Regions from separate parts of the Homo sapiens genome. Here region 2 is linked to region 1. Evidence: fine-mapped expression QTL. A gene starts in region 1. The other region holds a variant in brackets. All regions are shown on one strand. Distances are between the middles of the regions. Region 1 holds the start of CTSW (cathepsin W). Region 2 overlaps DPP3 (dipeptidyl peptidase 3).

Region 1 (4,383 bases):
ACTAAAAAATACAAAAAATTAGCCGGGCGTGGTGGCGGGTGCCTGTAGTCCCAGCTACTCGGGAGGCCGAGGCAGGAGAATGGCGTGAACCCAGGAGGTGGAGGTTCCAGTGAGCCGAGATCGCACCACTGCACTCCAGCCTGGGCGACAGAGCGAGACTCCGTCTCAAAAAAACAAACAAAAAAAAGAAACGCAGTAGTGAGCATGTAAGTGAATAAATCCCAGGATTATAGCTGTCCTGTCTCCCACCCCATGGAACCCTAGAAAGCCAGCTCTTCACACCCTTCTCTGGTCTTGGTCACCAGTTCTCAGCCTGAACTCCTATAGGGGAGGTCCCCAGCCCAAGGACCCACTTAGAACAAAGGCAGCAGTAACGGGTGTTAATGCTGCTGCCCAGCCCTTGACCTCACAAGTCAGGCTTTGGCCTCCCTCCGTCTGTGATGCTCACCCTGTTATCCTTCTGGCTCTTCAGCCCCCTCATCCTCATCCCTAGACCGTGGGAGGGATGAGGAACGGGAGGCACTGGCTGCAGTTGCTGCTCCCGGACTCTGACTCTGCGCTTTCCTGTTTTGTTTTGTTTTTTGAGATGGAGTTTCACTTTTGTTGCCCAGGCTGGAGTGTAATGGTGCGATCTCGGCTCACTGCAACCTCCACCTCTCAGGTTCAAGTGATTCTTGTGCCTCAGCCTCCCGAGTAACTGGGATTATAGGCGCCCGCCACCATGCCCAGCTGCTTTTTTGTATTTTTAGTAGAGACAGGGTTTCACCATGTTGGCCAGGCTGGTCTCCAACTCCTGACCTCAGGTGATCCACCCGCCTCGGCCTCCCAAAGTGCTGGGATTACAAGCGTGAGCCACCGTGCCTGGCCTGGTTTTGTTTTTTTGACACAGGATCTTGGACCCACGCTGGAGTGCAGAGGCATGATCATAGCTCACTGCAGCCTTAATCTTCCAGGCTCAAGCAATCCCACTGGCCTCAGCCTCCCCAGTAGCTGGGACTACAGGAGAGCACCACCATGCTTGGCTAACTTTTTTTTTTTTAAGTAGAGATGAAGCCTTGCTCAGTTGTCCAAGTTTGTCTCCAACTCCTGAGCTCAAATGATTCTCCTACCTTGGCCTCCCAAAGTGATGAGATTACAGGCATGAGCCATTATGCCCGGCCTGCTTTCCTGTTTAAAACTCATGATGATCAATTGTTCAGTCAACAAACACCTAGCGAGCCTGACTCATGCCTAGCCCTATCCTGGGAACCGAGGACACCGAGGACACAAGCGAACTGAACACTTCTGGTGTGGTTGGAGGCAGATGCCCAATGGGCACAGGTGCAGCTGGGCTGAAGGGGCTGCAAAGCTTCTACCAGAGGTTGGGGAAGCAGGGAAGGCTTCTTGAAAGAGGCGGCCATTGAGCTGACTGAGCTTCATAGGATGAGCAAGAGTGGTTCCCTTGGCTGGGCGCAGTGGCTCATGCCTGTTATCCCAGCACTTTGGGAGGCTGAGGCAGGTGGATCACCTGAGGTCAGGAGTTGGAGACCAGCCTGACCAACATGGTGAAATGCTGTCTCTACTGAAAATACAAAAAATTCGCTGGGCATGGTGGTGCATGCCTGTAGTCCCAGCTAGTCGGGAGGCTGAGGCAGGAGAATTGCTTGAACCCGGGAGGTGGAGGTTGCAGTGAGCCGAGATCATGCCACTGCACTCCAACCTGGGTGGAAAAAAAAAAGAAAGAAAGAAAGAAAGAAAAAGGGGTGGGATGGGGAGCAGACAGGCAGGGACTGAAAGCCTGAAGGCCTGAGCAACTTGTGGGTTCTAGGGGTCCACCCTCCACCCACCAAGCCTGTCTTCCCCTTCGTGGTTTCTCCAGCCCCACCCTCACACCGTCCTCCTCGATCTGCGCGGCTTCCTGCCTCCATGCCACTCCAGACTGCACCGGCATGGCACTGACTGCCCACCCCTCCTGCCTCCTGGCCCTGTTGGTGGCAGGCCTAGCCCAAGGCATCAGAGGCCCCCTTAGGGCCCAGGTAAGTGCTCCCAAACCCTTACCTATGCCAGTCCCACGCCTGGGGTCACCCCTTCAGAAACAGCTGGCCTGTCATTCTCATTTTTCAGAGGGAGTTGCTGAGGCTGGAGAGGGGGCTGACGTGCCCAAGGGCACATGGGAAGACAGAAAAGGCTAACTGGCTGACCCCTAGCCCAGTCCTTGCACGGCTGGGAACTAAGGTGGGGCCCCAGCAATGATTCCTCTGCCCACTGCCCCTCTCCACCCTTGGTTCCTTGCCAGGACCTAGGTCCCCAGCCGCTAGAGCTGAAAGAGGCCTTCAAGTTGTTCCAGATCCAGTTCAACCGGAGTTACCTGAGCCCAGAAGGTATCACAGGGCACATACATCTCCAGTCCAAGCCCCCACTTTTTTTTTTTTTGAGACGGAGTTTCACTCTTGTTGACCAGGCTGGAGTGCAATGGTGTCATCTTGGCTCACTGCAACCTCCACCTCCCGGGTTCAAGCGATTCTCCTGCTTCAGCCTCTGAGTAGCTGGGATTACAGGCATGCGCCACCACACTTGGCTAACCTTTACATTTTTAGTAGAGATGGGGTTTGACCATGTTGGCCAGGCTGGTCTTGAACTCCTGACATCAGGTGATCCGCCTGCCTCGGCCTCCCAAAGGGCTGGGATTACAGGTGTAAGCCACGGAGCCCAGCCATCCCGCTTTGTAATAGATGAAGAAATCGAAGCTCAGGGTGGGGAACAGGCATGGCCAAGGCCACTCAGCAGGACAGGCCAGGGCTGGGGGTGTGTTCCCTGGTTTCCCGAAGGCATGAGTGGGTCCAGGATCATTCTTTGCTATGGATCTGGAGGGCAGTGGCAGGAGGTGGGGTCCTGCCCTAGTCCTACGTGATCCCCTGGCTCCACAGCCACTTCCCTGCGATTCTAGGCAGTGGACAGGGGGCCACCACCTAGTCATTTGCTCATTCAGCAAACACCCAAGGACACCCATTTTGTCCCCACATTGGGGACTTCTTCTCTAGCCCATGATCTAACCCCTGCCCCTGCCCTCTCGCTGTGCTGATCTCTCTAGGGGGCTGATCTGTGTGTGCCTTTTAGCCCAGACTGCCTGTGCCTTGTCATCTCCTCTCCCTGCCATGTTCCAGCTCTCCTCCTGTGGTCAGAGGTGTAAAGGACGTGGCCTGGCAGGAAGCTGGTCTCCAGCCACACATCCTTGAGTCACCACCACCGGACCCCTTGCCTGGCTTCCCACCTAGGGTGGCCAGAGATGGTCCTCTGGCTGCCTCTGGGGAAAACCCAACCCTCGGTGGGCTGGGTAACCACTTCCTGGGCCTGGGTATCTGCAGTGGGGCCTTGTGGGGGCTACAGGAAAGGAGCCAGTGCTCAACTGGGTGGGTGTGGGTGGAAGGGTGCCCAGCCAGCGGCTACTTCCTGCCCCTAAGGGCTTGGGAGTCAGCCTAGGACAACTCCCTTTTGGTCCAGAGCATGCTCACCGCCTGGACATCTTTGCCCACAACCTGGCCCAGGCTCAGAGGCTGCAGGAGGAGGACTTGGGCACAGCTGAGTTTGGGGTGACTCCATTCAGTGACCTCACAGGTACCATTAACCCTTCTGGCTCGTAGGTGGTGGTTGGGAAGCGATCTCCCCAGGGACACTGGCAGCTGGACCCAGCGGACCTTCAATTTTTACTTCCCAGGGAAGGAAATTCATTTCCCTGAGGACCAGGGGCTTGGGTGCTGGTATCAAATCACCCAGTGCAGGGGCAGAATCTCTGCAGTCCTGTGTCCTAATCCAGCCTAGGGGCCAGCGCAGCAGCTGCAGGGAAGCACCCAGCAGGGAGCCCAGCCTCTCTAGGCTTGGCACCCTTGCCTTTTTGAGACAGGGTCTTGCTCTGTTGTCCAGGCTGCAGTACAATAGTGCAATCACAGCTCACTCAGCCTCCACCTCCTAGACTCAAGCAATTCCCCCGACCCCTCAGCCTTCTAAGTAGCTGGGGCTACAAGCCCGCACAACCACGCCCAGCTAATTTTTCTACTTTTTGTGGAGATGGGGTCTCGGACTCCTGACCTCAAGTGATCCACCCACCTTGGCCTCCCAAAGTGCTGGGATTATAGGTGTGAGCCACCACGCCCGGCCTATCCTTGCCTTTTTGCCCCTCAGGGAATTATGGGACCAACAGCTGGAGTGGGAGAGGCAGAACAGGGAGAAGGGGTCAAAATGGAGACCTCAGTGGCCCTGTCTGTTCCCCAGAGGAGGAGTTTGGCCAGCTCTATGGCTATCGGAGGGCAGCTGGAGGGGTCCCCAGCATGGGCAGAGAAATAAGGTCTGAAGAGCCAGAGGAGTCAGTACCTTTCAGCTGTGACTGGCGGAAGGTGGCCAGCGCCA
Region 2 (4,309 bases), 630 kb after region 1:
CTTGGCCCACTGCAATCTCTGCCTCCCGGGTTCAAGCGATTCTCCTGCCTCAGCTTCCTGAGTAGCTGGGATTACAGGCGCGTGCCGCCATGCCCGGCTAATTTTTGTATTTTTAGTAGAGACAGGGTTTTGCCATGTTGGCCAGGCTGGTCTCGAACTCCTGACCTCAGGTGATCCACCCTCCTCGGCCTCCCAAAGTGCTGGGATTACAGGCGTGAGCCACCATGCCCAGCCGGAAAAAGCATTTATTAAGACGCTCATTCTAGATGCTTTTCCATGCTCTCCAGAGGCTTCCTGGGATTTGGCCCCAACCCTTGCCAGCCTCACCACCCCTTCTCTGGCTCACTGTACTCCAGTCTCCCGACCTTTCTGTTTCTTCTACCCACTGAGCTGGGTCCACTCCTACAGCCTTTGAATAAGCTGTTCTTGCTGCTTGGCATGATCTTCCTCCAGATCTTTGCCTGTCTGGTTCTTTTTGTCCTTCCGCTCCTTGTAAAACGGCACCCTGTGAGAGAGGTTGTCTCTGACCCCTCCACCTAAAGTAACTGCTTCGGTCCCTCTCTGTTCTGCTACCCAGTTTCATTTTCTTCTAGCGCCCATCACGCTTGCCCATTTTCTTGGTGGTCACTTCTCATGATGGGAGGAGCAGCATACCCCAGTGCCTCATGCACAGCCTGGCACACTGGAGTTGCTCAGTGACTGTCAAATGAGTGCATTAATAAATCATGCCAGCCACATGGACAATACTCTCAATTGCTTTGATATGTCCAGCCCTGTGCGAGCCATGGGGGAGCCACTAGGGATCCGGAGGTGATCACAGCTCACTGGGGATGATAAGATATGGAGATAAATAATCATACAAGGGGGCCGGGCGCGGTGACTCACACCTGTAATCCCAGCACTTTGGGAGGCTGAGGCAGGTGGATCACAAGGTCAGGAGATCGAGACCGTCCTGGCTAACACGGTGAAACCCCGTCTCTACTAAAAATACAAAAAATTAGCCAGGCATGGTTGCAGGCGCCTGTAGTCCCAGCTACTCAGGAGACTGAGGCAGGAGAATGACCTGAACCCGGGAGGCGGAGCTTGCAGTGAGCCAAGATTGCGTCACTGCACTCCAGCCTGGGTGACAGAGCGAGACTCCATCTAAAAAAAAAAATAATAATAATAATCATCATCATAATCATACAAGGGAAGTGTTAATGAGTGGCCAAAACATATAAACAGAACTCTGAACACTTAGAGGAGGGAAGATCGCATCCATCTTCAAGAGTATCCGGGAACGTTCTGGGGAGGAAGGGGTGGTTCCCACTAGATCTGAAGAACAGGTTGGATTTTCAAAGGTTGTGATGGTGGTGCACTGTAAAAAGTTTTTTTTTTTTTTTTTGAGGTGGAGTCTCACTCTGTCCCGCAGGCAGTGGTGAGATCTCGGCTCACTGCAACCTCCACCTCCGGAGTCAAATGATTCTCCGGCCTCAGCCTCCCAAAAAGCTGGGATTAGAGGCACCCACCACCATGCCCAGCTAATTTTGTATTTTTAGTAGAGATGGGGTTTCACCATGTTGGCCAGGCTAATCTCGAACTCCTGACCTCAAGTGATCCACCCGCCTCAGCCTCCCAAAGTGCTGGCATTACAGGTGTGAGCCACCACACCCAGCCAGGTCGCTGTAAAAGCTTTCTATGGCTTAACTCCTAACAACCCAGAGAGAAATGGTTATTATCCTCATTTTTCATCTGGAAAATGAGGCACAGAGGGGCTGTGTATTTGCCTGCGGTCACAAAGCTGTTGGGTGGCAGAGCCAGAACTTGAACTCCAGAGCTTGTGCTCTTTGCTGCTGTGCAGCTTGTGATGTCATGGAACACGACAAGGTGCACAGAGAGGGTAGAGCAGTTGAAGTGTGTTTGAGGGCAGTGCTTCCCGGGGGTATTCAGGGGACCCTCAGAACAGCCCATTTAATAAATCAGTAAACAGGTTCGGAGATAATGATGCCATGGTGGCTAGCATTTGTTGAGCACCCCCTCGATGTGTGACTATGTCATCACTGCAGCTCCTTTACAGATGAGGAGACTGAAGCTTGGGAGGTTGCAACACTTGCCCCAGGTCCCACAGTAGACAGATGAAGTCGTTGCTGAATTGTGAGCTTCAGGACACCAAGGACTGTATCTGTTTCACCTAGTGTGGCACCTGGTGTCTTTTATTATTTATTTATTTATTTATTTATTTTGAGGTGGAATCTCACTGTCACCCAGGCTGGAGTGCAGTGGCACGATCTCTGCTCACCGCAACCTCTGCCACCCGGGTTCAAGCAATTCTCCAGCCTCAGCCTCCCGAGTAGCTGGGACTACAGGCTCATGCCACCACGCCCAGCTAATTTTTTTGTATGTTTAGTATAAACAGTGTTTCATCATGTTGGCCAAGCTGGTCTCAAACTCCTGACCTCAGGTGATCCTCCCACCTCAGCCTACCAAGGTGCTAGGATTACAGGCATGAGCCACCATGCCCAGCCTAAATCTTTATTTGATTGACTGAATGAACGAAAGCAGCAATGCATTTAATACTCCCCCTGTAGTATTTCCTTCCTCACAGGGTTACTGTAAAGAGTAAATTAAGTAATTAACCTAAAACGTAGAGCACAGGTTTTTTTGGCAGAGCTCAGTAAGAAACAGCTGCTGCTGTAATTGTGATTATTAAGATTTTTATGATGATTCAGTTTCCCTATTCAGACCTTTCCCTGCTGTTTTCTCTCCATCTCCTCCCCAGGCTCAGACGTGCAGCTTCTGGAATAC[G/A]AGGCGTCAGCTGCTGGCCTCATCCGATCCTTCTCTGAGCGTTTCCCAGAGGATGGACCCGAGTTGGAGGAGATCCTCACACAGCTGGCCACAGCCGATGCCCGATTCTGGAAGGGCCCCAGTGAGGCCCCATCTGGCCAAGCTTGAGGAAGATGTGTGGCCTTGCCCCCAATTCCATCAGACCAAGGCTGCAAGTGGCCCTCCATTCGTGTGTGTATTTAGGGGCTGGGGAGGGGGAGGGGCAGGAGCTTGGACCTTGGTACTACCTCAGCTGAGGGTGGTGACACAACCCCTTCCATTTGTCAGCACTTTCCAGCCTGCCAATTGCTTCCCCTCTGTGATCTCATTTCATCTGCACTGCCATACGTGGAGTGAGCAAGACAGGGCTTACCATCCTGTCTACCAGATGAGGAAATGGCAGTTCTGAGAAGTCACTGGTCTAGATCCCGCAGGTGGCACGTGACAGCTAGGGTTCAAAACGTTCTCACCAAATCCAATGCTCCTCACATATTAATTTTATAACCAGACAAATAAATATTAGAGACAACCACCATCTTTGCGGCGTGTGTGGCTCCTCCTTGCCTTTGCCTGTCTTCTCATTTACTCCCAGCAGAGTGATGGGCTCAAGGCCTGGGGAGGGGGCAAGGAGGGCCATTTTTAGCCTCCCTTCCACAACAGGATGTTGACATTATCTCTAGATGAGGATACGCAGTCACAGAGCTGAACATAGCACAATTTTTGCAGCTCTCCTTTGTGGCATTCCTTGCATTTTTAAATGTTCTGGGGCCGGGCACGGTGGCTCATGCCTGTAATCCCAGCACTTTGGGAGGCCGAGGCGAGGGGATCACGAGGTCAGGAGTTCGAGACCGGCTTGGCCAATATGGTGAAACCTCGTCTCTACTAAAAAATAAAGTAGCTGGGCATGGTGGCATGCGCCTGTAATCCCAGCTACTCGGGAGGCTGAGGCAGGAGAATCCCTGGAACCCGGGAGGCGGAGGTTGCGGTGAGCCGAAATCGCGCTACTGCGCTCCAGCGCAAGCGACAGAGCGAGACTACGTCTCAAAAAAAAAAAAAAAAAAAAAAAGTTCTGGGAACCTACAAACTCAACTTCAGTCAGAATCCTCTGCATTTGTCCCATAACCCTCGTGTTTTGTTTCTCTGGGCCTGGACCTCTACAGTAACGCAGCAAGGCAGGACATGGTCCTTTTCAACCGGGTAACCATGAAGATGGAGACAGGAGGAGTTCTTTTTGCTGCTCATAAATGCTAGAAGGGGCTTCTTTCCAACCCTGGAAGCCAGAGGGCTCTGTGGCTGACCCAGAGATTGTAGGACCCAGACGCCTGGAAAGGTGGCTCTGACTGGGAAGGAGCAAAGATAAATATCTTTGAGGAATCTGAGACAGATTCCTCAACCCAGGAAGGTGGCCAGCGCGTCCTCCTGAGCCTGGGTGGGAAAGCTTGGCGCCCGGAACCTTTGTACTCGCCCTTCCCTGTGCTCGGGCACTATTGGGCGTTACGCGAGGGCG

Evidence for each region. PIP is the estimated chance that this variant, and not a neighbour inherited with it, causes the effect. A credible set is the group of variants that fine-mapping cannot tell apart.
Region 2: its variant is the best candidate, but not a certain one, in a credible set for the expression of CTSW in whole blood (INTERVAL, PIP 0.50).

What each region holds. Positions count from the first base shown.
Region 1 is chr11:65,877,927-65,882,309 of GRCh38, forward strand. It overlaps CTSW (cathepsin W), which reads left to right and starts at 1,911. Exons shown (of 10, transcript NM_001335.4): 1 at 1,911-2,015; 2 at 2,276-2,360; 3 at 3,481-3,594; 4 at 4,249-4,383. The coding sequence starts at 1,929.
Region 2 is chr11:66,506,321-66,510,629 of GRCh38, forward strand. DPP3 (dipeptidyl peptidase 3) reads left to right here. Exons shown (of 18, transcript NM_130443.4): 18 at 2,759-3,337. The coding sequence ends at 2,931. Among named protein-coding and RNA genes, the nearest start is that of BBS1, 2.2 kb to the right of the region's middle. RefSeq lists an enhancer at 4,177-4,226. The variant G/A (reference allele first, on the strand shown) is at 2,785.